Regions from separate parts of the Homo sapiens genome. Here region 1 is linked to region 2. The links come from fine-mapping of genetic effects on plasma protein levels. A gene starts in region 2. The other region holds a variant in brackets. All regions are shown on one strand. Distances are between the middles of the regions.

Evidence for each region. PIP is the chance, under the fine-mapping model, that this variant and not a neighbour inherited with it causes the effect. Protein levels are from the aptamer-based SomaScan assay of Sun 2018.
Region 1: its variant is fine-mapped to the plasma level of the CDNF protein (Sun 2018, PIP 0.95). The variant lies in the coding sequence of CDNF. If it changes the protein, the assay may bind it differently, which can mimic a change of level.

The regions. Positions count from the first base shown.
Region 1 is chr10:14,807,862-14,825,306 of GRCh38, forward strand. It overlaps CDNF (cerebral dopamine neurotrophic factor), which reads right to left. Exons shown (of 4, transcript NM_001029954.3): 4 at 11,384-12,297. The coding sequence ends at 12,119. Among named protein-coding and RNA genes, the nearest start is that of CDNF, 21 kb to the right of the region's middle. The variant C/G (reference allele first, on the strand shown) is at 12,222.
Region 2 is chr10:14,827,949-14,838,192 of GRCh38, forward strand. CDNF (cerebral dopamine neurotrophic factor) reads right to left here and starts at 10,089. Exons shown (of 4, transcript NM_001029954.3): 1 at 9,884-10,089; 2 at 197-324. The coding sequence starts at 9,998. RefSeq lists a silencer at 10,142-10,244.

The sequences.
Region 1 (17,445 bases), 16 kb before region 2:
GGTACTCTGTTACATATGTTACTTACATTTTTCCATTTAATCCTCACAATAACCTTATTAGGTAGGCATCATTAACTGCATTCTAAGATGAAACACCAAGGGCCAGGAAAGTTGAAGAACTCCACCTCAGTTAGCACAACTACCCACAGGCAAACCTAGAATTCGAATTCCAATTCAGTCCTCTTTCCACCTTATTATTTCCACTTCCATCTTTGTATGTTCAGAATATTATTACAGTAACAAGATTTTCCAATAGAATGAACCTTTAGGGGCTGGGCGCGGTGGCTCACACCTGTAAACGCAGCACTTTGGGAGGCCGAGGTGGCAGATCACTTGAGGTCAGGAGTTCAAGACTAGCCTGGCCAACATGGCAAAACTGTCTCTACTAAAAATACAAAAATTAGCCAGGTGTGGTGGTACGTGCCTGTAATCCAAGTTACTTGGGTGGCTGAGGCAGGAGAATCACTTGAACCCACGAGGCAGAGGTTGCAGTGAGCCAAGATCACACCACTGCACTCCAGCCTGGGTGACAGAGTGAGACCCTGTCTCAGAACAAAAAAAAAAATGAACCTTCAGGAAATTACCAACAAACTCGTAGAGCAAGCAGACTACAGAGGTCATGTTCAAAGTCTGGGTCTGAACCAGACTTTTGAGCACTTACTGCCCAAGGTCAAGGTGCTGTGACACTACAAACTTTCAGGAGAGGCAAAAACATGTAAATATCTGGCAAGGAAATAAGTCCGGATTTCTGTAAGCAACAAGGAATCTCCTATTCATTTAGGATTGCAGAAGAATGGAGATTTATAAGCAAATATTTAGCTGACAGGAGTAGACGTTTAGAAGTGAGGGGAACACCTGGATTTCTGGGATACACACATACATTCTTAGATATTATTATCTAGCAGGTGAGCAAGTTTACTGCCTGCTAGAAATTGCCCAGCCGAAGGTCCCTCAGAATGTATTTATAGCTGCTCCATCACTAGGAGCCAACATTTGATCCGTTCTTTCCAAAATAGGTCTTAAAAGATTCAAAAGGAAAAAAGGCTAGAGCTCTGTCAACAACGTCTTCTGCAGTCGATTGTAAACAGTGCAGGTAGAGAGACTTATCAGACAGTTGGTTGCAGAGTCTGAACAAGGTGGTCTTTTTTTTTTTTTTTTTTTTGAGACGGAGTCTCGCTCTGTCGCCCAGGCTGGAGTGCAGTGGCGCAATCTCGGCTCACTGCCAGCTCTGCCTCCCAGGTTCACGCCATTCTCCTGCCTCAGTCTCCCGAGTAGCTGGGACTACAGGCGCCCGTCACCAAGCCCGGCTAATTTTTTGTATTTTTAGTAGAGACGGGGTTTCACCGTGTTAACCAGGATGGTCTCCATTTCCCGACCTCGTGATCCGCCCGCCTCGGCCTCCCAGAGTGCTGGGATTACAGGCGCGAGCCACGGCCCGGCCTGACTAAGGTAGTCTTTTTTAGTCTGATGAGAAAGGAGTCCTGAGGGTGGGGGCTGCAGAAAAGAGAAGCAGCTGCTCATTTCAGCTTCTTGGCTCCTGCGACCTGAAGAGGAAAAACCACAGCTGACACACCTGTGTGGGGAAAGAAGCCAAGAGGATGAGCACACTTCCTGGGTGAGTAGTTCGTGCTTACCCTACTCCATGCTCCAGGAAAGGAAGTGGCCCAAAGAAAGAAGTGAGGCACCTTGAGTCCTGGTTTCTGAGGGCCCAGGTGCCCAGGTGCTTTCCAACTTTTTTTTTTTTTTTTTTTTGAGACAGAGTCTCGCTTTGTCACTCAGGCTGGAGTGCAGTGGTGTGATCTCGGGTCACTGCAACCTCTGCCTCCCGAGTTCAAGCAATTTTCCTGCCTCAGCCTCCGGAGTAGCTAGGACTACAGGTGCGTGCCACCATGCCTGGCTAATTTTTTGTATTTTTAGTACAGCCGGGGTTTCACCATGTTGGGCAGGCTGGTATCGAACTCCTGACCTCGTGATCCACTCGCCTCAGCCTCCCAAAGTGCTGGGATTACAGGCGTAAACCACTGCGCCCGGCTTCCAACTTTTACCAGTGTATGGAACGATGGGAGGTAGAGGTTTTGCAAAAGAGCCCAAAGTGTCGGCCGGGCGCGGTGGCTCACGTCTGTAATCCCAGCATTTTGGGAGGCCGAGGCGGGCATCACGAGGTGAGGAGATCGAGACCATCCTGGCTGACACGGTGAAACCCTGTCTCTACTGAAAATACAAAAGTTCACCGGGCATGGTGGCTGGCGCCTGTAGTACCAGCTACTCAGGAGGCTGAGGCAGGAGAATGGCGGGAACCCGGGAGGCGGAGCTTGCAGTGAGCTGAGATCGTGCCACTGCACTGCAGCCTGGGTGACAGAGCGAGACTCTGTCTCAAAAAAAGCCCAGAGTCTCAGTTAGTGATGATGACACCCAGACTGGGTGTCACCACAACCTCTCATTCAAAATCCTGAAATCCAGAAAACTCTGAAAATCAAAACTTCTTTTACATAACTAAATAAGTGACCTGAATTCTTCTGGTGACAAAAGCTGATGTGGATTCACGGGAGGGTGTTACAGGATGCTGCCCCAACCTCATGGTGGGGGAGGGAGGGTGTGCGATAGGGGTATATGCCCCATATTCCCTTTCTAAACTATGAAAAGTTATTAAGTCCAAGAACATCTAGCTCCAAGGATTATGGTAATCGGATTGTGGGCCCGTCTTCTGTCTTTATGTGCTCTTTTTCTTTCTTCTTTGGTTCTTCCCCCCGACCCCCGCCCTCGCTCTGTCATTCAGGGTGGAGTGCAGTGGCGCAGTCTCGGCTCACTGCAACCTCTGCCACCCGGGTTCAAGCGATTCTCCTGCCTCAGCCTCCCAAGTAGCTGTGATTACAGGTGCCCACCACCATGCCTGGCTAATTTTTGTATTTTAGTAGAGATGGGGTTTCACCATGTTGGCCAGGCTGGTCTCAAACTCCTGATTTCAGGTGATTCTCCCTCCTCAGCCTCCTGAAGTGCTGGGATCACAGGCGTGAGCCACTGCGGCGGCCGTTCTTTGGTTCTAAATATGGTTAATCCATCCATTACTCAGCATAGACAGAAAATTCACGATATCTTAATAAGCAGGCATATGTTCACAGAAAATGCACCACTTACCAGACCATGTATGTAAGTTTGCAAGGTCAACCACCAAACCTTGGGAGAGCAAAACCACAGAAGTGGAGCTTCATATACGAAGTCACCACCAGGACAGTGGTTCTCAAACTTGGCTTCACACTGAATCACCTGGGAAGCTTTAACAAAACACTGACACCTGGGACTCTCTCGCCCCTCCCGACTACCACACACAAATGGAAGTAATTGACCTGGCCTTTGAGACGTTTAAACGTTCCCCAGGTGCCTCTGACACACAGCCCAGGTTGAGAGCCACTGGGCCTGGAGGTAAAAAATCCACATTTAAAGTGTGTGCTTTCAAACAGATCCGTTTCACTCACAATGAGCTGCCTGACCTCTGTCAATTACCACACCTAAAATTTTAGTTTGTTCATCTCACACAGCCCACTGGTGGGAGTTGGAAATTCAGCCCCAGGTCTGCCTGCTCGATCCCAATTCTCGAAACTTCTGCCAGTGGAAACATACCAAAAACAAACTGTTGACACATAATACCTGCTACTCATTTCTTTTTCTGTTGATCTTTGTTTTGCGCTACCAGAAAATAATTATTATCAAGGGAAGAATCACCTGATGCACTTCAATTGTAATTTTAATCTCTTGTTGATACTACAAACTCAAGATTTCCATATTAAAACAAAAAGGGGAAACTAAAATAAATGATAGTGACTAATCAAAAGTTTCTAAATGCATAATGATGGTGCACCCAAGAGGATTTCCCTTTTGCTGTTCTACTTTAAACACACAGTGGAAGAATGACTACCTGACTATCACTTCTTTTGGATGAGACTCAAAATCAAAATGCACATCCATCTGCTTAGAAATGACACTGATCAAGAGGTGTTCAAACTCATAGATATGGCCTTTGGATCACAAAATGCTCTCCTGTTTAGGGATCCACTCATTAAATATTTTCTTGTGCTATATGCCAAGCTAATTTGGTCTAAATTTAAAACTTTTTTTTAGTGGAATGTGTATTACAGATTATCCACACCCAAATGAAAAACTACAATTTTAGATTGTGCTCCAAATGTTATATCTGGTCTGCCACGTTTATGTAAGAGCCAAAGTAAAGGGTCTTCTGCTTGGAATTTTTGAAATTTAGACTAGATCTGGAATAATGCCTGTCCCAGACCACTACTGTTGAGACAGGAGAATAAGGTTTGGAGGCAGGGAACCTAAAGCCGATTCATGCTGACTTCCTAGAACTAGATCAAAAGGAAAACCCCAACTTTCCACACCTAAGTAACAAAAGGACCAGAGGCTACTCTCTCCACAACTCCCCCACCCCTTTCTGGGTGGCAGATGAAAAATTGAAAGTACCTCTGATTGGTTGCTCCTCACAACCAATCAGACATTTGCGTAGGAGTGTAGCTTTGTAACTTCACTTCAGCCTCTGATTGGTTACTTTCCGCAACCAGTCAGACTGATTTGCAGGACAAGACTTCATTTGCATAGGAGTGTAACTTTGTAACTTCATTTCAGCCTCTGATTGGTTGCTTTCTGCAACCAATCAGACTGATCATGGGCCATCACTTCATTTGCATGGGGTATATACCAAGTGGCCAATGGAAAACCTCTAGAGGGTATTTGGAGCCCAGAAGATCATGTAACTGGGCCCCTTGAGCCGCTTGCTGTGGCTGTTCCCATCCTGTGGAGTGTACTTTCATTTTCAATAAATCTCTGCTTTTGTTGCTTCATTCTTTCCTTGCTTTGTTGTGTATTTTGTCCAATTCTTTGTTCAAAACGCCAAGAACCTGGACAGCTTGCAGTCAAAAGACCCTCCACCAGTAACACTGTTTAGATGAAAGGTTTCTGTTCTTTGGTTTGGTTTTGTCTGAAATAGAGTCTCGCTCTGTCGCCTAGGCTGGAGTGCAGTGGCGTGATCACAACTCACTGCAGTTTTGATTTCCTGGGCTCAAGTGATCCTCCTGCTTCAGCCTCCCTAGTAGCTAGGACCACAGGTGTGCACCACAACTCACTCCCAGGTAATTTTTTATTTTTTGTAGAGATGGGGTCTCACTCTGTCACCCAGGCTGATCTTAAACTCCTGGGCTCAAGCAATCCTCCCACCTCAGCCTCCCAAAGTGCTGGGATTATAGGCGTGAGCCACCATGCCTGGGCTGGATGAAAGTATTTTAGCCTAGAGTTTTGACACTTTTGTCAGAATGTCCGACTCCTAAATCTTGTATGCTTATGGATTTGGGGGGGAAATACAGATAAAAAATGCATATACGCACAAACACATGCACAGTGAGAGGAGTAGTGATTAAAAATTAAAAAGGAAAAATAGTAGCTACTTCTCATCAAATCAAAAAAGAAGGAAATGCGTAACTGCCTACATCTATGGAAGATGCAAATAGCAAGGAGGAACAAGACTTATTGAGGGTATCATAACCAGGAATCATCACTAAGATGCAGAGTTAGGAAAAATTTATGCTGTGTGGCAAAGATGGTTTGTGGCCACAGACTATTTCCTCCTTCTTCCTCAGTAACCAAAAAAAAAAAAAAAAAAAAAAAAAAATATATATATATATATATATATATATACACACACACACACACATATATATTCATACATATTCATATATATATTCATCATATATATATGATTTTATTTGGGTAACAATGAACCCAACCAAAAGATATTATTTCCTGAACTCCTTTGCAGCCAAGTTGGACATGTGATTAAGTCCTGGTCAGTGATTTAACCTAGCAAACCCATCGCTGGGTAGATACCCAAGGGAATATAAATCATTCTATTATAAAGACACATTCGGCCAGGCACAGTGGTTCACGCCTATAATCCTAGCTCTTTGGGAGGCTGAGGCAGGTGAATCACTTGAGGTCAGGAGTTCAAGACCCAGTCTGGCCGACATGGTGAAACCCCATCTCTACTAAAAATACAAAAGTTAGCCAGGCTCGGTGGTGTGTGCCTGTAATCCCAGCTACTCGGGAGGCTAAGGCACAAGAATCACTTGAACCCGGGAGGCAGAGACTGCAGTGAGCTGAGAGCATGCCACTTCACTCCAGCCTGGGCAACAGAGTGAGACTGTCTCAAAAAAAAAAAAAGTACATGCATGTATATGTTCATTATGGCACTTTTCACAATAGCAAAGACATGGAATCAAGCTAAATGCCCAGCAACGGTAGACTGGATAAAGAAAATATGGTACATATACATCATGGAATACTACACAGCCATAAAAAGAACAAGATCATGTCTTTTGCAGGAACATGAATGGAGCTAGCTGGAGGCCATTATCCTTAGCAAACTAATACAAGAACAGAAAACCAAATACTGCATGTTCTTACTGAGAAGTGAGAGCTAAATAATGAGAACACATGGACACAAAGAAGGGAACAACAAACACGGGGGCCTGTTGGAGGATGGAGGCTGGGAGGAGGGAGAGGATCAGGAAAAAATAACTAGGTACTAGGCTTAATACCTGAGTGACAACAAACCCTTATGGCACAAGTTTACCTATATAATAAACCTGCACATGTACTCCCAAACCTAAAAGTTAAAAATAAATTTTTTTTTAAAAAAACCTTTTTAATAAAAAAGCTCTGGTCAATGGTGTATAAGCAGAGTGTTAAGTGAGATATGAGGGTGGGAGTGGAGGTAGGTAGAGGGAGGGAGGCTCCCTTAAAGAAAGGCTCAGGGCCGGGTGCGGTGGCTCATGCCTGTAATCCTAGCACTTTGGGAGGCCAAGGTAGGTGGATCAACTGAGGTCAGGAGTTCAAGATCAGCCTGGCCAACATGGTGAAGCCCCATCTCTACTAAAAATAAAAAAAATTAGCCCTGCATGGTGGCAGATACCTGTAATCCCAGCTACTTGGGAGGCTGAGGCACAAGAACCGCTTGAACCGGGAAGGCAGAGGTTGTAGTGAGCCAAGATCACGCCACTGCACTCCAGCCTGGGCAACAGAGCGAGACTCTGTCTCAAAAAAAAAAAAAAAAAGAACAAGAACAAGAACAAGTAGTAGCCGGGCACAGTGGCTCCTGCCTGTAATCCCAGCACTTTGGGAGGCCAAGGCGGGCAGATCACAAGGTGAGGGGATTGAGACCATCCTGGCCAACATGGTGAAACCCCGTCTCTACTAAAAATACAAAAATTAACCGGGTGTGGTGACGCGCGCTTCTAATCCCAGCTACTCAGGAGGCTGAGGCAGGAGGATCGCTTGAACCTGGGAGGTGGAGGTTGCAGTGAGCCGAGATCGTGCCATTGCACTCCAGCCTGAGCCACAGAGCCAGACTCCATCTCGAACAAAAAAAAAAAAAAAAGAAGTGGGCTCGGGTTAGAGGCAAGTTCTTTCATGCCTTCTCCCTTCTGAAATAGTAAATTGCAGCATCCAACTAGGCCAACGGGCTAGAAGTGAAACCCACCACTAGGATGGGAAGCAAAAAGTTCAAGCTGAGTCCCTAATAACTGTGGAGCTGCCATATTTACCCTGGACTGGCTACTTCTGGACTTCTTTTACATGGGAGAATAAATTCTTGTACTTTTCTGTTTCATTTTGTTGTTGCTGTTGTTATTGTTACATTCAACTCTATCAAAAACATAACTGATCAAGACTGGTGTGAAAGTCATGAGAATCAGAATGGGGTCACAAATGGTAAGAAAACCCTGAAAACAGAGCTGGGGGAGGCCATGAAAAGAGGGTTCTCAGGCTTGTATGCCTGATAACATAAACAATCACAAAAGACTGCAAAAATCATAATCCTCCACAAAAGCCATCACAACTTCACACAAGAAAATTCTTCTGCAAGGGCATTGACCCGGAGACTATCTGTCCAAACTCAGACTAGCATCACTCTTGTGATTGATCTTTGTGGTCAAGGATAATTATTTCAAAACAATTATGCAATCCTCCTCTTTTTTTTTTTGTCTGAGACAGAGTCTTGCTCCGTCACACAGGCTGGAGTGGAGTAGAGTGGCATGATCTCAGCTCACTGCAACCGCCATCTCACGGGTTCAAGCGATTCTCCTGCCTCAGTCTCCCCCAATAGCTGAGATTACAGGCACGCACCACCATGCCCAGCTAATTTTTTTGTATTTTTAGTAGAGACGGGGTTTCACCATGGTAGCCAGGCTGGTCTGGAACCCCCTGACCTCAGGTGATCCACCTGCCTTGGCCTCCCAAAGTGCTGGGATTACAGGTGTGAACCACCACACCCAGCCCCTCATTTTTATCTTTAAAAACCTTTGTCTTCCTTTACCTCCCTTGAATACGCATAGTTTACTAAGGCTTGTGTATTCCCATTGCAATGCTCTATTCCCAAAACAAACATCTTTTTTTAGAGAGCCTTTCTCTGTTTACTATTTAGGTTGATACTGGCAAAGGGAAAAAAGTATGTATCAGTTGCAGGATCCTTGACCTAGGCCTTTGCTACTCAAAGCGTGGTCCTGGAAGGGTAGTGTGGACATCACCTGGCAGCTCATTAGCAATGCAGAATCTCAGGCCCCACCCCAGACCCACTGAATCAGAACCCCTACTTTAACAAGACTGCCTCTACGCCCAGTTTTTGTTTTTACTTTTCAGCTATTTATTTTTTATTTCAATAACTTTTGGAGTACAAGTGGTTTTTGGTTACACGGATGAATTGTACAGTGGTGAAGTTTGAGATTTTGGCTCACCTGTCACCAGGTAGCATACATTGTACCCAATATGTAGTTTTTTATCCCTTACCTTCCTCCCACTCTCCCTGCTTCTGAATCGCCAATGGCCATTATACCTCTCTTTATGTCTCTGCTTACCCTATAGCTTAGCTCCCACTTATAAGTGAGAACATAGAGGTTTGTACATACAGATTTAGTCTTCCATTCCTGAGTTACTTCACTTAGAATAATAGCCTCCACTTCCATCCAAGTTGCTGCAAAAGAATGATTTTGTTCTTTTTGATGGCTAAGTAGTATTCCATGCTGTATTATGTTTGTTATGCCTGATAACATAAACACATTTTCTTTTTTTTTTTTTTTTTTTGAGACAGAGTCTTGCGCTGTTGCCCAGGCTGAGGTGCAGTGGCGCAATCTCAGCTCACTGCAAGCTCCGCCTCCCGGGTTAACGCCATTCTCTTGCCTCAGCCTCCCGAGTAGCTGGGACTACAGGCGCCCACCACCACGCCCAGCTAATTTTTTGTATCTTTAGTAGAGACAGGGTTTCACCATATTAGCCAGGATGGTCTCGATCTCCTGACCTCGTGATCCGCCCGCCTCGGCCTCCCAAAGTGCTGGGATTACAGGCGTGAGCCACTGCGCCCGGCCAAACACATTTTCTTTATCCACTTACCAGTTGATGGGCACTTAGGTTGGTTCCATATCTTTGCAATTGTGAATTGTGCTGTGATAAACACCATATGTGCAGTTTGAGAAGCACTGATGTAAATTCTCTTTAAAACAAACAAACAAACAAAAAAACAGACTAGATCGGACACAGTGGCTCATGCCTGTAATCCCAGCACTTTGGGAGGATGAGGCAGGTGGATCGCTTGAGGTCAGGAGTTTGAGACCACCCTGGCCAACATAGTGAAACCCGATCTCTACTAAAAATACAAAAATTAGCCAGGTGTGGTGGTGCACGCCTGTAATCCCAGCTACTGGGGAGGCTAAGGCAGGAGAGTCAGTTGTACCTGGGAGTCAAAGGTTGCAGTGAACTGAGATAGCGCCATTGCATACCAGCCTGGGTGACAGAGTGAGACTCTGTCCAAAAAGAAAGAAAAAAAAAAAAAACAGACTAAACACCATGGATACAAATGACTGGCTGAGCACTGTTTCTATTACCTCAATTTGTATCCTGAAGAAAAGACATAGAAATGCGACCCGATTTTGAGGTCAGACACCAAACATAATATTTTCAAACAACACATTTCTTGATAGGTTCAAAATGCAAAAATAAAAACAGATATAAAGGTTATAAGAAGTTTAGAAAAGAAAACTCTGGAGAGGCCGGGCATCGTGGCTCACACCTGTAATCCCAGCACTTTGGGAGGCTGAGGTGGGTGGATCGCTTGAGGCCAGGAGTTCAAGACCAGCCTGGCCAACATGGCAAAACCCCGTCTCTACTAAAAATACAAAAAAATTAGCTGGGCATAGTGGTGGGCGCCTGTAATCCCAGCTACTCGGAAGGGTGAGGCAGAAGAATCACTTGAACACAAGAGGCTGAGTTTGCAGTAAGCTAAGATTGTGCCACTGCATTCCAGCCTGGGCAACAGAGCGAGACTGTCTCAAAGAAACAAAAACAACCAAAAACAAACTTTGGTTTTTTTGAAGATATAATTCAAAATAAAGTAGATGCTTTACAAATGATAATCGAGCTGCCAAAATTCAGAAACAATAATTACTTTGACCATTCATTACACCACAGCTTTGTATTCTCACCTTTCAGTTACATCATATATATATTTCCTTAGGAACCACTAACTCTCTGACATATCAGCTTCCCAGCTGAAAATGCATTTACCTCTGCAGCATTTAGAATTAAAAATTATGTTTTCGATGTATATTTTCAGTCTGAAAATGTCTCCTCCACTCCCTGAAAACAACCCCAGCCAGTAAATGCAATTCTTTGAATAAATAAGGTGGGCTTTTTTGTTTGTTTTTTCATATATTCTGGCAGGGTCTTGCTCTGTTGCCCAGGCTGGAGTGCAGTGGCAGGATCACAGCTCACTACAGACTCCACCTCCTGGGCTCAAGCAGTCCTCCCACCTCAGCCTCCCGAGTAGCTGGGACTACAGGTACACACTATCATGCGCAGCTAATTTTAAAATTTTTGGTGGAGACGGAACCTCACTCTGTTGCTCAGGCTGATCTCTAACTCCTAGACTCAGGCAATCCTCCCGCCTCAGCCTCTTGAAGTGCTGGGATTACAGGTGTGAGCCACTGTGCCTAGCAAACAAGGTGTGTTGAATTAATTAATTTTAGTTAATTTCCAAATAATTTTTCTACAGCAGTTTTTAAAGATATTATGTACATACAATAAAATGCCCAGATCTTAATTATCCTACCAGATGACAATGTTATTAACCCATGTAATCCCCATGTCAATCAAGATATAGGACATTCCCATCACTCCAGAAAGTTCCAAGGAAATGTTTTTTCAGTATTCCCCAGCTGTACCTGCCACACAGAGGCGGACACTTCTACTGTGGGTTTCTTATTCTTATGTGGCCAGAAAATGGAACCAAAGATGATTTTACAACCGAAAGCTGATAAAATAGCATTAACAATGGTAAAGTTCCAAGTTGCCTATGAGTGTTTTTAATATGCTTTAATCTTCCATCAAAAACTTGTCTGATATGTGACTGTAAGGAATGAAAAAGACCTTGAGCTTGGTTCAATTAACAATGTAAATGTTGATATAATTGCCAAACATTGGCTATACTTATACGGTTTCTTGATCTCTCTATTTTCTTTAAGTAGGTTTAAGTGGGTTTTCTTCCAATGGGAAAAACGAGTACTCCTGCCTGACCATTTCTGATACCAAAGAGAGCTACAATATAGAGTGAAAACAGAAAATTCACTTGAAAAAAACTTTTGATTCTGTATTTGGGATTGAAGTTGTGCATTAGATAAGCTGACTGTTGTGTCTTTTGTTTTAGTCCAATATATTTTAAAATTGCATCCAGAGAGGAGTCTCTGAATGCCTTCTTCTTTCTTGGAATCAATTTACTCCATCAATTTGTCAGTAGGTCACTTTTAGGAGACAGGCAATGAAAACTGGCATAGTCATTCCAAGAAACTTATGAGAAAGGAACTTTTAGCTTTTGGTACACTGCAAATGTAAGTTATCAGTAGTATTAGTTTCACTCATAAACCCACGTAACAAAATTCTGAGGAATAATACCAACACAAAAAGCATGAGACCAAATATGATGCATTCCCAGTTATCCTTAATCAACATGTCCATATCCTAGAGAGTCACTTTTCTCTCTAATTACAAGTCACAAATGTGCTGGCATTGGAGATCAGAGCTCTGTTTTGGGGTGTGTCGCTGCATACTTGGGGGCCAGCTCTTGAATGAGATTCACATAGTCAGTTTTTTCTGCACAGGCCCTGCACTCCTCCCCC[C/G]AGCTATGCAGGATCTGCTTCAGCTCTGCCACTCTCATCTTCCGCAGGTCAACTGATGCCAAGTCCAGTGTTTTTTCTAAATGGCAAAAAGGAAAAAAGCCAATTACAAAATAAATGGAAAAAAAATCCCTATGAATCACTTCAAAAGGCATATAGTTTGCTTATCTTGGTGCTGACTACCCTATGATCCAAGGCAGGGAAGAATTCCAGTTTCCATGGAAACCAAGACACACCCAAGGAAAATGTGGTACAGCAGCCCTCTCTATCAGTGGGTTCTGCATCTGCAGATTCAACCAACAGCAGATCAAAAATATTCTAAACAAATTAAAGATAACACTACAACAATTAAAAAATACAAACAGGGCTGGGCACGGTGGCTCATGCCTGTAATCTCAGCACTTTGGGAGGCTGAGGCGGGAGGATTGCCTGAGGTCAGGAATTCGAGACCAGCCTGGCCAACATGGTGAAACCACACCTCTACTAAAAAAAGAAACAAAAAATTAGCCGGGCATGGCGGTGGCATGCCTGTAATCCCAGCTACTTGGGAGGCTGCGGCGGGAGAATTTCTGGAACTTGGGAGATGGAGGTTGCAGTGAGCCGAGATCACGCCATGCACTCCAGCCTGGGAAACAGATTGAGACTCTGTCTCAAAAAAAAAATACAAACAATACAGTATAACAACTATTTACAATGATATGGTTTGGATTTGTGTCTCCACTCAAATCTCACGAGGAATTGTAATCCCCGCTGTTGGAGGAGGGGCCTGTTGGAAGGTGATTGGATCATGGGGGTGGACTTCACCCTAGCTTTTCTCATGATAGTGAGTGAGTTCATGAGGGATCTGGTTGTTTCAAAGTGTAGCACCTCCCCCTTTGCGCTCTTCCTCTTGCTGCAGTCACGTAAGACATGCCTCTTCCTCTTTGCCTTCTGCCATGATTCTAAGTTTCCTGAGGCCTCCCCAGCCATGCTTCCTGTACAGCCTGTGGAGCTGTGAGCCAATTAAACCTCTTTTCTTTATAAATTACCCAGTCTTAGATAGTTCTTTTTCTTTTTTTTTTTTGAGACGGAGTCTCGCTTAGCCACCCAGGCTGGAGTGCAGTGGCATGATCTCTGCTCACTGCAACCACCATCTCCCTGGTTCAAGCGATTCTCCTGTCTCAGCCTCCCAAGTAGCTGGGATTACAGGCACCCACCATCATGCCCGGCTAATTTTTGTATTTTAGTAGAGACAGGGTTTCGCCATGTTGGCAAAGCTGATCTTGAACTTCTCACCTCAGCTGATCCGCCTGCCACGGCCTCCCAAAGTGCTGGAATTACAGGCGTGAGCCACCGCGCCTGGCCAATAGTTCTTTACAGCAATGCGGGAACAGACTAATACAAATAGCATTTTCATTGTATTAAGTATTATAAGTAATCTAGAGATGATTTAGAGTATACAGGAGGGAAGATGCACATGGGTTATATGCAAACACTTAAGCATCAGGATTTTAGTGTCTGAGTATGGTCCCAGAACCCCTCCTGCACAGGTACTGAAGGACAACAGTGTATACAAAGTTATTGGGATAATTTGTGTTTTTAATTTGACTTTCTTTCCAAGAGATTATACTTGCTTCAAAACTAAGGGCCTATGTAGTGCCACAATGTTTACTACCATTTGGAGCATTCTCAAGATCAGTATTCCTAAAACAAATAGCACTGTATCCAAATTGCTGCTGTTAAGGTAACAAGAAGGAAACTCATATATAAAAGGCAATCGGTTCCTTTGGGATGGCCTTGGTTTGCGGCCAACTTGAAACCCATAGATTGTAATTAACCAGCAAAAAGTTATGGTTCACTTTTTCTAGGAAGATGTATCTTCGGCAAAGCAAATGAGCACATACACATGACAAAGCACTATTGGGTTTTAAATAAAAATGTAAAGAAATGCAAACACGTGAATAAAATTAGGAATATTCTCGCTGAACCTTAATTGTTTGGGATCTCTGTTTTGAAACTCACCTGATGCCCAGCCCCTACTGGGATTAGGTTGCTAAATTATCACAGCAGGTACAGCCCTTTGTGTTATTCCCACTTCTCCAATGCTAGGGCTTTGGTGCCAGCCAACCTGGCTTCTAAAATTCTTGCCAATGATACTTGTCACCAACATCTAACCTCCTCTAGCAAGACTACTATTTCGCTGTTTATAGATTATGTGCAGAAAATATCAAGAACTCAGCTACTTCTCAATTGCTGAAAAGATTGAAAAAAAGCCCAAAATACAAAAAATAATAAGCTCATCTGTAATATACCAATAATTATAATTTTCCTATCAGAAAGAGGTACTTTTCCTCTTTCAAAAGAAAGTCTAGAGGGGCATGGGGGCACACACCTGTAATCCCAGCATCTCAGGAGGCTGAGGCAGGAGAATCTCTTGAACCCAGGAGGCTGAGGTTGCAGTAAGCAGAGATCATGCCACTGCACTCCAGCATGGGCAACAGAGTGAGACTGTCAAAAAAAAAAAAAGTGTCTTTTGCCCCTCCCCGCTTGTCCGGTGTTCACTTTGATAATGAATACAACATTTAAGTTTATTTATTAAACAACTAGTGGCAGCCTAGAATTTTTACAGCTTGACTTCTCTTGAAAGTTCTTTCTCTTTTTTACCTCTGAGTAGTAGAACACAACATTTAAAAACATTAAAAACCTAATATTTGTCAAATTATTTGTCAAAACCTTCCGGTAACTCTGTTCTAATTTAAAAGCTGGATGTTAAAAGACTTTTGTATTTAGAGGGTCAGCTATACACTGTGCTCCAGAAAACCCTTAAATTTTTATAGTGATTCCCTATCCTTTTTAAACACAAAGCAAGCAAATGAAAACATTCTTTCAGGTCAAAAACCAAATGGCACCTTCCTAATTGAAAACATACTCCAACTCCACACTTATCTTGCTTGTTAATTTCATGGCTGATCTGACAGAATACTTTTTAAAGTAGAAACTTGCATAGCCCAAATTATTAATCTCCCACAGCACAAAGGTCCCTGTTTAATCTTATCTTTCCTGCTAACAATAGCTGGGGAGGATAATTAAGAACTATTAGTCTATTCAAGATAAGAGGCTGAAGGAGAAAAATACATTTTTTTGTAAATGTCAGTAGTTTCTTTGAGTTTTTCTAGAGAACTTGGTATCTGGCATTAATTTTAAAAAGAGGAAAACCTCTGTGATGCCCCAAAACTCCAAAGTAAAGGTCCACACAAAGATTAAAACTAGTTCATAGCTCCCCAAGGGCCTCTAGTGGCCAGCATCGCCAAAACATTAGGTAGTCATTTCGTCTCAATAATATCTGATTTTTCTATTGTTTAAGGAGCCCTGTAAGATCCCTAGGATATAGGAGAAGGTATTCACAACAAATTTGTTGAATTTAAAAAATCAAAAGAGGTTTGTGATATTGGCTTTTATTTATTTTTATTTTATCTATTTATTTTTCAGATGGGGTTTCACTCTGCCACTCAGGCTGGAGTACAGTGAAAAAAATCACAGCTCACCAGAGCCTTGACCTCCCAGGCTCAGGTGATCCTCCCACCTCAGTCTCCTGAGTAGTTAGGACTATAGGCGCTCAACACCACACCTGGCTAATTTTTGTATTTTTGTAGAGACAGGGTTTCACCATGTTGCCCAGGTTGGTCTTGAACTCCTGGGCTCAAATGATCCTCCTTTCTTGGCCTCCCAAAGTGCTGAGGTTACAAGTGTGAGCTGCCGCGCCCGGCCAAGTTTGTGAATATTGTTTATATGGACTCAGTGATTTCTGCCCCTATTTCATGGCTTGGAAGCCAATAAAAAAGGGATGCCTACTCTAATAACTACCCTGGAAGTTAGGGCTTGTGCTTTGCAAGTTAAGAAATAGGTTGTCTGTGGTAACTTTCAACCTTAAACCTACTTAAAGCTAGCTATGTGGCTATGGTGCATAGGACTATTACACGGCTGTGTTGGAAAATAAGACTAAAATAACTTAGAGGTGGATGCTAATTACTTAGGTAGTTGACAGTACTACACTGGGTATGTAATGCATGCAAAACAATGACTTAAGCAAAAGGAATGAGTGGGATTTCAGGTGTCAAGGATAGGCTGAGGAAGGAATTCCACATCCTTTTATGATACCCACTCAATCTACCCAAATGTCTAGCCCAGATACAAATCATGATAAAAGATCTATCCATGTGAAATGTATGGGGCCAAGGATAACATTTTAAAATAGGACATCTCCTGGCCGGGCATGGTGGCTTACGCCTGTCATCCTAGCACTTTGAGAGGACAAGGCAGGTGGATCACCTGAGGTCAGGAGTTCAAGACCAGCCTGGCCAACATGGTGAAACCTCGTCTCTAATAAAAATACAAAAATTAGCCAGGCGTGGTGGTGCATGCCTGTAATCCCAGCTACTCGGGAGGCTCCGGCAGGAGAATCGCTTGAACCCACGAGGCAGAGATTGCAGTGAGCCAAGATCGCACCACTGCACTCCAGCCTGGGTGATAGAGCGAGACTTCCCCTCAAAAAAAAAAAAAAAAAAAAAAGGACATCTCCTTCCTTTTCTTGCTGTTTGTTTTGGGCACCCTCTGATAAGCTATTTTACCAGGAAAAACCTGACTTGATGTGAATAACCAATTTCCCAAAATTTAAAGCTGGCAGAATGGTAGCTCTGCCTAGGAAGGAAGTCATAGTCATCTTTACATCTTCAAAGTCCTTGTATCATCTTTGAATAGGTACTAGTTTTGTTTTAATAGATTACCAAGATCCAAATCACCAGGAGTAGCTGCTCTCTCTATATGTTGAGATTTTCCTTGACATACGTATCTGGCTTTGCCTTGGTGTGTTAGGAGTCTAAACTCTGTGATTTCAGTGGCAATTTTTTTTTTTTAAGACAGAGTCTTGCTCTATCACCCAGGCTGGAGTGCAGTGGCGGGATCTGGGCTCATTGCAACCTCTGCCTCCCGGGTTCAAGCGATTCTCCTGCCTCAGCCTCCCGAGTAGGTGGGACTATAGCTGCCCGCCACCACACCCGGCTAATTTTTTTGTATTTTTTTAGTAGAGACAGGGTTTACCATATTGGCCAGGCTGGTACTTGAACTCCTGACCTTGCGATCCGCCCGTCTCGGCCTCCCAAAGTGCTGGGATGAAAGGCCTGAGCCACCGCGCCAGGCCTCATTGGCAATTTTAACCTAATGCTGATTATGCCTGTACTATTTATTTGTC
Region 2 (10,244 bases):
GTAACACTGGAAATATTCTGGATGAAAACACGCAGAACTACATGTCACTGGAAGATGGATTTCTGCTTGCTGCGTGCTCTAAAATGGACATACTTGAGGCAAACATGTAAGTAGGAGGACTTCACGTCTAAGAAATGAAACTATTAGCAGTATTCTTCAAGCACATGGGGAAAATGAAAGGTGAAATTTACTATACCAGGCGGTTTTCTTTTCCTTTGGTGTCCAAGCAAAAACTGATCAATTCTTTCTCTATAGTGTCCAGCGAAAAGTTAACTCCTCTGTCTATCAGTGACTTGTAGAATCGGTTCAAGAATTCTTTACATACTGGAAGGAACAAATAAATATGTCTGCATGCACAACTTAACCACTACCACACCTATGCATATGACCCACTAACCACATTTAAAAGTCTATATGGGGCTGGGCATGGTGGCTTACCCCTGTAATCCTAGCACTTTGAGAGGCTGAGGTGGGCAGATCACAAGGTCAGGATATCGAGACCATCCCGGCCAACATGGTGAAATCCTCTCTCTACTAAAATACAAAAAATTAGCCAGGCATGGTGGCGCGTGCCTATAGTCCCAGCTACTCAGGAGGCTGAGGCAGGAGAATCACTTGAACCCAGCAGGTGGAGATTGCAGTGAGCCGAGATCTTACCACTGCACTCCAGCCTGGCGACAGAGCAAGACTCCATCTCACACACAAAAAAAGAAACGTCCATATGAGTCAATGCTTCATGACAGTGGATTCCAATGCTAAGTAAGAATGATTTGGGGGCCAGGCATGGTGGCTCACACCTGTAATCCCAGCACTTTGGGAGGCAGAAGCAGAAAGATCACTTGAGCCCAGGAGTTTGGAGCCAGTCTGGACCACATAGTGAGACCTTGTCTCTACTAAAAAAAAAACACAAAAAAACAAAAACAAAAAAACACCAGGCATGATGGTGAATGCCTGTCGTGTCAGCTACTCGAGAGGCTGAGGTGGGAGGGTCACTTAAGCCCGGCAGATGGAGGCTGCAGTGAGCTATGATCAAGCCACTGCACTGCAGCCTGGGTGACAGAGTGAGACCCTGTCTCAAGAAAATTAAAAATATAAATAAAAAGAATGATTTCAGGCCTGTTGCTATTAGTTTAGTATTGGGCCTAAATGCAGTGGACACATTGTAACAGCATATTGAATCAATCAATCATTGGAACGAAGTTCTACCTAAAATGATAACTTTTCCACAAAATTTGGCTAACCCTAAAATAAAATAGGCTATCATCTTGGGACAGCATAATTGTAAGCACAGAGAAAAACCTGAATAAGAATCCTGAATGAAGCCCCTTGGTGATCTGCATAAGTCTTTATTTCCATCGTTATGAGCCTAAAGTGAAATCAGGCTGGGCATAGTGGATCACACCTGTAATCCCAACACTTTGCAAGGCCAAGGCGAGAGGATCTCTTGAGGCCAGGAGTTTGAGACCTGCCTGGGCAACACAGTAAGACTCTGTCTCTGCACACACCTGTGGTCCCAGCTACTGAGGAGGCTAAAATGGGAGGCTTGTTAGGTCATTTCTTCTAGTTCCTTATATCTTGAAGATACTTTCAAGCTTGTTTTTTATATCTTTAAACACACTAAACTTAATTATGATCTGTGTGTGAAAATTTCAATATCTGAAGTCTTCAGAGTTTTTTTTGTTTGTTTGTTTGTTTTTTAAGACGAAGTCTCGCTCTGTTCACCCAGGCTTAAGTGCAATGGCGCAATCTCAACTCTCTGCAACCTCTGCCTCCCTGGCTCAAGTGATTCTCCTGCCTCAGCCCCCCAAGTAGCTGCGATTACAGGCGCTCGCCACCACACCCTGCTAATTTTTATATTTTCAGTAGATACGAGGTTTCACCATGTTGGCCAGGCTGGTCTCAAACTCCTGACCTCAAGTGATCTGCCCATCTCGGCCTCCCAAAGCGCTGGGATTACAGCCACTGCATCAGGCCCAGAGTACGTTTCTATTTGTTGTTGTTTCTATAGGTTCTTGTTCCTGGTGCCTCGTTTCTTTGTGTGCTTGCTTATTTTGCGCCACACGATACTCATACGTCTCAAAACTTATTTGTGAAGATTGTTTGAAGCCTGAGATGAAGGAGCATTATTTCCAGTAAGGATTTGTATTTGTATTTCTCAGGGACTAAGGGCAACTAGCCAGGCACTGCTTTAAACTAAATATATAGCTTGAAGTTTTTGGGCCCCGATGTGAATTTTGGCTGCAAATACAAGTGAGGGACGTTTTGTTGTTATCATTTCTCAGAGATATATATTTTTTCTTTTTTCTACTTTGCTCAGTGTCAAGGTAAATTTCCTTATAGTCCCCTATGGGTAGGGATGGGTTCGGTTTATGTTCTATGTTTCTTTAAACATAAAAAAACATAACTTCTATGCCTGATTATTCCAATACCTGAAGCCACTGCAGGGGTGTGCCTCTTCTGTTTTTTGTTCCAGCTGGCTCTCACTTATGTGCCCTTCTTCCCTAGGGGTTCATGACTTTTCTAAGTGGCAGCTCTATTTCTTAGAACTTTAACTGTATGAATTCTTTGAGGACTAGGTTGAATGTGGGTTCCTGTAAGTAAGACTCACATTTGCTGGCTGGGCACGGTGGCTTATGCCTGTAATCCCAGCACTTTGGGAGGCCAAGGTGAGTGGATCACCTGAGGTCAGGAGTTCGAGACCAGCCTGGCCAATATGATGAAACCCCGTCTCTACTAAAAATACAAAAATTAGCCAGGAGTGGTGGCAGGTGCCTGTAATCCCAGCTACTTGGGAGGCTGAGGCAGGAGAAATGCTTGAACCCGGGAGGCGGAGGTTGCAGTGAGCCGAGATCACACCATTATACTCCAGTCTGGGCGACAAGAGTGAAACTCCGTCTCAAAAAACAAAACAAGACAAAAACAAAAACAAGACTCACATTTGCTGATTCCTGAGGGTATGATCTACTTAAAATCACTTTCAACTAAATTATCAGTTCGAGATGTTTCAGATCATCCTAGTAGTGTGAATGGGGCCTTTGACCCCTACCTATGTGCACGAGCTTGTAATTATGAGTTATCAAGAAAGTTTTGTTTTTCCTTTTATCAGTAAAAATGTTCAAGTGAAACCATTTCTTTTAGTCTCTAAAGATGGAAATAGGTTGTAGTTACTTTCAGTTCACCCTTTATAATGAAGGGCTAGGTCTTTGGGGCCCTGAATTAGTTGGTAGAGGATCTGCTCTCACTCTCCTAACTTGGAAATGCCTGGGACTTGTGTTTATTTAGCCAAAACCATGAAAACTTCAGTTCAGATCACCTGGCTAACAAATGCTCCCAGGTAAAGCCAGCTTCAGTGCTCCCTTCAACCCCCTGGACTCCCACTTCCACTCTGTGGTTGGCTTCTGGGTATGCCTTCCCAACTCATACTTTACAATATTTTCACATTTTTATTTTATCCAGTATTTTCAGTTGCTTTTAGATGACTGGCCAATCATGTCATCTTTTAGAGCTTAAAGTCATATATATATATATATATACACACACATATATATACTGTATATACATATATATAAAATACATATATACACATATATAATACATATATACACACACACACACACACATATATATATATATATTTTTTTTCAAGATGGAGTCTCGCTCTGTTGCCTAGGCTAGAGTGCAGTGGTGTGATCTCGGCTCAATGCAACCTCCACCTTCTGAGGTTCAAGCAATTCTCCTGCCTCAGACTCCTGAGTAGCTGGGACTAATGGCGTGTGCCACCACACCCAGCTAAGTTTTTGTATTTTTAGTAGAGACAGGGTTTCACCATGTTGGCCAGGACGGTCTCGATCTCCTCACCTGGTGATCTGCCCACCTCGGCTTCCCAAAGTGCTGGGATTACAGGTGTGAGCCACCGTGCCTAGCCCATATATTTTTATTTCTAATGCTATCAACATGAACAGAATACTAAACATAATAGCCAGTTATTCATGTTTTTAACAAATATTTACTAAGCGACTAGTAAGTGCAAAACAGTATTCTAGGTTCCTAAGATTCAGTAATGAAGAAAACAAAGAACTTGCCCTTGAGAGTTACATCCGATAGAAGTAAAGGTATACGTAGCAAAGAAGAAAAATAAACATGGTAAGGAGGATGGAGGGTGACAAGGTAATAGTACGATTCTTAATGGATTGGTTAGGAAAGATCTCTTAGATAAAGTGATATTCAAGCAGACACCTGAAGGAAGTGGAAGAACAATTTAAGTGGATGACTTGAGGAAGAACTCCGCAGGCAGAAGGAACAGCAAGTACCAAGGCTCAAATGCAGGAGTGTCCTTGGTGGCTTCAAGGAACAGCCAGAAGGCCAGTGTGGCTAAAGTAGAGGGAGCAAGAGGGAGGTGTGTAGCAAATGAGATCAAATAGGCAGCAGCATGCTGGGGCATCCAGGGCCTTTCAAGCTTGGTAAGGTCTCTGGATGTCACTCTGAGAAGGGAAGCCATTTAAGGTTTTGAGTAGAGAAGAGTTATGGTCCGACATGATTCATAAAGGATGTCTCTGAAGGCTGTCTGAAGAATGGATTACAAGGAAGCAGAAAAGAAAGCAGGGAGACCAGCTGACCAGTTTAGAGGTTCTCAAAATAGTTGCATCTCTTAGACCAGGGCAGTAGCTACAGCAGTCATGAGAAGTGGTTACACTCTGGACCTATCTTGAAGGAAGAGCCAAAAGAATTTACTAATAAGCCAGATGTAATGTGTCAGAGTTGGGGAGAGAGAGAGGAATCAAAGATAATCCCAATAATTTTGGCCAAGAAACTGGAACCGTGGAGTTGCCATCTGCTGAAATGAGGAAGACTGCAGGAGAAGCAGTTTATGGTGACAAGCAGGAATCTAATCTTTCTTTTTTTGCTTTTTTTTTTTTTTTTTTTTTTTTTGAGACAGAATCTCGCTGTGTTGCCCAGGCTGGAGTGCAGCGGTGCCATTTCGGCTCACTGCAACCTCCAACTCCTGGATTGAAGTGATTCTTGTGCCTCAGCCTCCTGAGTAGCTGGGATTACAGGCGCATGTCACCACACCTAGCTAATTTTTGTATTTTTAGTAGAGATGGGGTTTCGTTATGTTTGCCAGGCTGGTCTCTAACTCCTGACCTTAGGTGATCTGCCTGCCTCAGCCTCCCAAAGTGCTGGATTACAGGCATGAGCCACCATGCCTGGCCAGAATCCAGTCTTGACATATGAAGTTCAAGATGCTTCTAGACGTCTGTGATGGTTAATTTTATGTAGCAATGATGAAATTAACACTTAAATTGATGAACTCTGGGTAAGGCAGATTGGCCTCCATAATGTGGGTGGGCCTTACCTAACTACTTGAGGGCCTGCACAGAACAAAATAGACCAGCCTTCCTGACGAAGAGGGAATTCTCCAGCAGACTCCCTTTAGACTTCCTTCGTACCACAGGCTCTCCTGGGTCTCCAGCCTGCTTGCCCACACTGCAGATTTTGGACTTCTCAGCCTTCACAATCTTGTGAGCCAATTCCTTATAATAAATCTCTTTTTACATAGATAAATATTACAGATATTAAGAAGATATATAGATATAGATTATATGTTCTGTTTGGTCCTATTGGTTTTATTTCTCTGGAGAACCTTGACTAATATAACATCCAACTGGAAACAGTGAGAAGGCAGCTAGATATAGAAATGTGAAGATCAGGTATAAGATCTAGGATGACTATATAAATCTGGAAGCCATCAACATTCAAATGGTGTTTTTGAGATGAGAACACAAAGTAAGGAGAGACGGAAAAGAGACACAGTCCTGGGTCTCAGCCTTGTGAAATCCCAATGTTTAGCAATTGGGAAGATGGAAAACAACCAGAAAAAGACGGAAAGGAGCAGCCAGTGAAGTAGGATAAGAACAAAGACTGAGTGTTATTCCAAAAGGCAAGTGAACACAGTGTTAAAAGGAATGTGTAATGATCTGCTATATTACACGTGGAAAATGAGATCCCTCTCAACATGTATTTTGCTGAGTTTAATTAGCAAATATATCCAGTATGCAAAGCAGAAACCTGCTGTAATGATTAATGCTACAAGTCAGCAGAAACTATCATCAGGCCAGGCACGGGAGTTCACACTTGTAATCCCAGCACTTTAGGAGGCCAAGGCTGGCGGATCGCTTGAGCTCAGGGGTTCAAGACCAGCCTCGGCAACATAGTGAAACTTCATCTCTATTAAAAATACAAAAAATTTGCTGGGTGTAATGACAAGCACCTGTAGTCCAGCTACTCAGGAGGCTGAGGAGGGAGGATCACTTGAGCCTGGAAGACGGAAGTTGCAGTGAGCTGAGACTGTTCCACTGTACTCCAACCTGGGTGACAGAGTGAGGCTCTGTCTCAAAAAAAAAAAGAAAAAAGAAAAAGAAACTATCATCAAAGTCTCCTAGGAGCCTCTAATTCTTGTCTCCTACAAAAGAAACCCCCAGTATTCCAGTGCCTCATCACTCTTGTGGTATTTCCCACAGTATACCTTCATATGATTTCTATACCTCAACTATCACTCTGCCAATGTATCATCTAGGTGATGAAAGTTAGGAATACTAACTTGTCCTTTTCAAGATCTACATTTGACTCACTAAAATATACCCAAAATTTTATCACAGCATATATGCATACATTTCTTCAACAAACTGAGCGCCTACCATATGCCATGCACTATGGTAGCTGCTGGACATGAGGTGGTGAGAAACACTGCCTTGACTTTCAGAGGAGACCAAAACAATATGAGAAGTGTATCAGATACTGTGGGAAAACAAAGGAGCGGCACCTGGAGGAAACTGGGAAACTGCTGAAAGATACTAAATAAGGAAGTAATATGATAGCCCTGCCAGGGGACTAGACAGGAGGGAGACAGGTAGCAGGAAGAATGCTATTTTGACAATGCGGAGGGGAAAACTGCTGAAGTTCTGTAAGGAAGTCCTAGACTTGAGTAAGGAGAAAGGAGCAGGACCAGTCAGGAGGTAGACTCAACGATGTAGTGATTGGTTGGGGGATAAGGGGGAAAGAGAAGTCTAGAATCTAGGCTAGGTGACCAGGTAGTTGTCCCATGCTGTCACCGTAAGCATGACAGTAACAGGTTTAGGGGAGTGAGAAGGGAAGGAGATGATGACTTTGGTTTTTTGACTGTGTTGATGTTGATGTACATCATATCTAAGAGGGCATGTTCACTAGTCAATTGGATGCAAGGTCTGAGACTCTAGAAAGGTCAGTGGATATAAGGTTAGAGATTTATTAGACTGGAGGTAGGTTGGTTTGGGTTGCCAAGAAGAGTGTGTAGACTGAGAAGAGAGAAGAGAAGAGAGCAGAACCCTGGAAAATTCTAAGCCATGGCTAGAGGATCAGAAGCCCACAAAGACACACTGGACAAGTGGGCATAGAGACAGGAAGGAGAAAAGCAGTATCATGACCATGAAGAGAAGGCAGTCTCTGAAAGGGAAAGATGTCAATGGTGTCACACACCACAAAGAAGTCAAGGTAAGAAAGGAAACTCATTTTCTGGACTTACATGAAGAGAATAACCTCACCATAAATGCCCTAACAAATTAGTAGCTTCTTAAGTTTTCTGGGATGTCTTTATTGCTAAAATAACCTCAGATAGCCATACTTCTTTTATTTATATTGTGCTTTTATGTTTATTAAAGATAGTTTTATAAGTGAATCTATAATTATTTTAAAATAAAAAGTTATTTAAAATAGTCCCATAATATAATCCTTTAAAAGAGATTTGGAAATATTTATGTTTTTCCAGTAAACCTCACATTACCTAATAATAGGACTCACAGACTTGAATATCTACAGGGGCCAGGCAAGGAAAAAGAAGAGTTAAGCAATTTGAATCGGGGGCAGAGTAGGGGCGGCAAACTACTCAAAACCCAAGTCCTTTCTAAAAAGAGCAGCCAATAGCCAATTCTACTATACAGCCATAAGGCCAATCTTGCCAGGTCATCTGGTTTTTTGAGAAAAGCCAGAAATATGAATTTTTACATAAAATTTCCCAATTTTAAAATGTACCCAGTGAATTTAATTTTTTTCAAAATATTTTGTAAATGTAACGAAACATATCAATAGGTCCGAGACGGCTCAGGAACCATTCAGTTTTTTTGCCTTCGCTCTAGAGTATGTATAATATGGCATTTTAATCTTATACATTGAGAAGAAATTAAGTTGTAAATAAGAAAGGAGGCTGAGGAGGGAGGATCACTCATAAGCAGTAATAGAGCTGGATGCAGAATCTGGTTCTTTTAGTTACCAAACTGTTATGTCCTTCCTCTGCGATTACACAAGCTTCTTTACCTAACAAATGAAATATATAGACAGGTTAGTCAGACATGCAATAATCACAGCATGCTGTAATAAATTTAGGACAGACAGCATAAGCTTCCCATTTAATTAATCCAGATGCTGTCTCTCTTGAAACATTTATAAGTGGGAGCCCCAGATGAGTCATCAAATCAATTGTCTTTGCCTCACAAAGTCTGTTTTAAAAGTATAGGACACAATTATAGCATGGTTTGGAGCAAAATTATAACTTAGCTAAACAAATATCTTTATATCGAGTAATAACATGTAGATATTTTAAATTTCTGGAGAAAAGTTTAATTATTGCAGAGCTCATAGAAAGCCAGGCTCCAATTATTAACACTTTAAGGACTGGGCGCTGTGGCTCACGCCTGTAATCCCAGCACTTTGGGAGGCTGAGGCGGGCCGATCACCTGAGGCCAGGAGTTCAAGACCAGTCTGGCCAACATGGTGAAACTGCATCTCTATTAAAAATATAAAAATTAGTCAGGCGTGGTGGTGGTGCCTTTAGTACCAGCTACTTGGGAGGCTGAGGCAGGAGAATCGCTGGAACCCGATGATGGAGGCTGCAGTGAGCCAAGATTGTGCCACTGTACTCCGGCCTGGGCAACACAGTGAGACTGTCTCAAAACAAAAACAAAAACAAAAAACAAAACAACAAAACAAACAAAAACACAACTTTAGTACGACTATACCCATCCATTCACTCAACATATATGATGAACCTACAATTTCCTGTTCACTAGGGATATATTTTCCAGCTGAGGGCATATACATTTAAACTAATTATTTTCAGTAAAACATGGAGTGAGCGCTACAGGAGTCCAGAAGGAAGGGGCTAGCATAGCCACTTACCTTCTTTGCCTTTGCTAACAGATCTCTAAAGTGAAGTACGCTGATTTTGCAAAAACCAAAGTCTCAGAGCTAGGGGACTTGGTGGGATACAGACTCACGTATTCTGACTGCGAGTTCACAGCTGAGATACCGTGAACAAAAAGGAACCACTCTTTTGTATTCCTCTCTTTCCCAAGGAGTCAGTGTACTCCTTTGCAAAGCAATTTTCACCTACAGAGTCCTAACAAATATTAGCTATGTCCTCTGATTTAAGCTACTCAACTCAATGCCATGTTTTGTTTTCCTTTGGGGAGTCACCAACTAGCTTGGACTTGAAAGACGTCTTCTGTGCAAGGGGAGGCAAATCTTGCTGGTTGGAAGCAGCAGAATCAATCTGGCGCCAGTATCATCTGAATCTAGCATTCTTTGCACAAACTCTAATCCAAATACAAACCCACCAGCTTTTACTGCTGAAGTTTAATATTCACAGCAAAACCACAACGTGGCCTCACGTTACCACCAGGCCCGGCTTGAGCTTTTTACTCGAGCTGGGCTTGGGCGATCTAAAACGAGGGACAGGGCCTGCATTTCCTGGGCGGAATGTTATTTATAGCCAGGGCCAGGAGAAGCCAAAGCCGACAGCTGCTGCGCCGCAGCGCGGGGCCGCCGCCATGCAAGCAGTTGTCACACCGCTCACCTTCACAGTCGGCCCCTGGCCGCCCCCCGGCCTCCTGGCCCTGCGTCAGCACCGGGTGAGAGACCAAAAGCCCGGCGCAAAAGGCCACCACAGCAACTGGGCTCGCGCACCACATGCTGGGCCAGCAGCTTCAATCGCCTCCGCCACCCGCGCCCACCGCCCACCAAGCTGCCAAAGCGAGCTGAGCAGAATTCGAGGTTGGAAAGAATCTGCCAGTAGTTGCCAGGACAAATGACGCAACTGAACACAGAGTTTCCATTGGCTCTCAAGGAAGGGATAGGAAGGGGGCGGAGTGTAGGAGCCTTTTCCCGTCCCTCCCCGGTTGCGCGTGCGCACTGTGCAGTTTCCGCGGAGCGCAGAG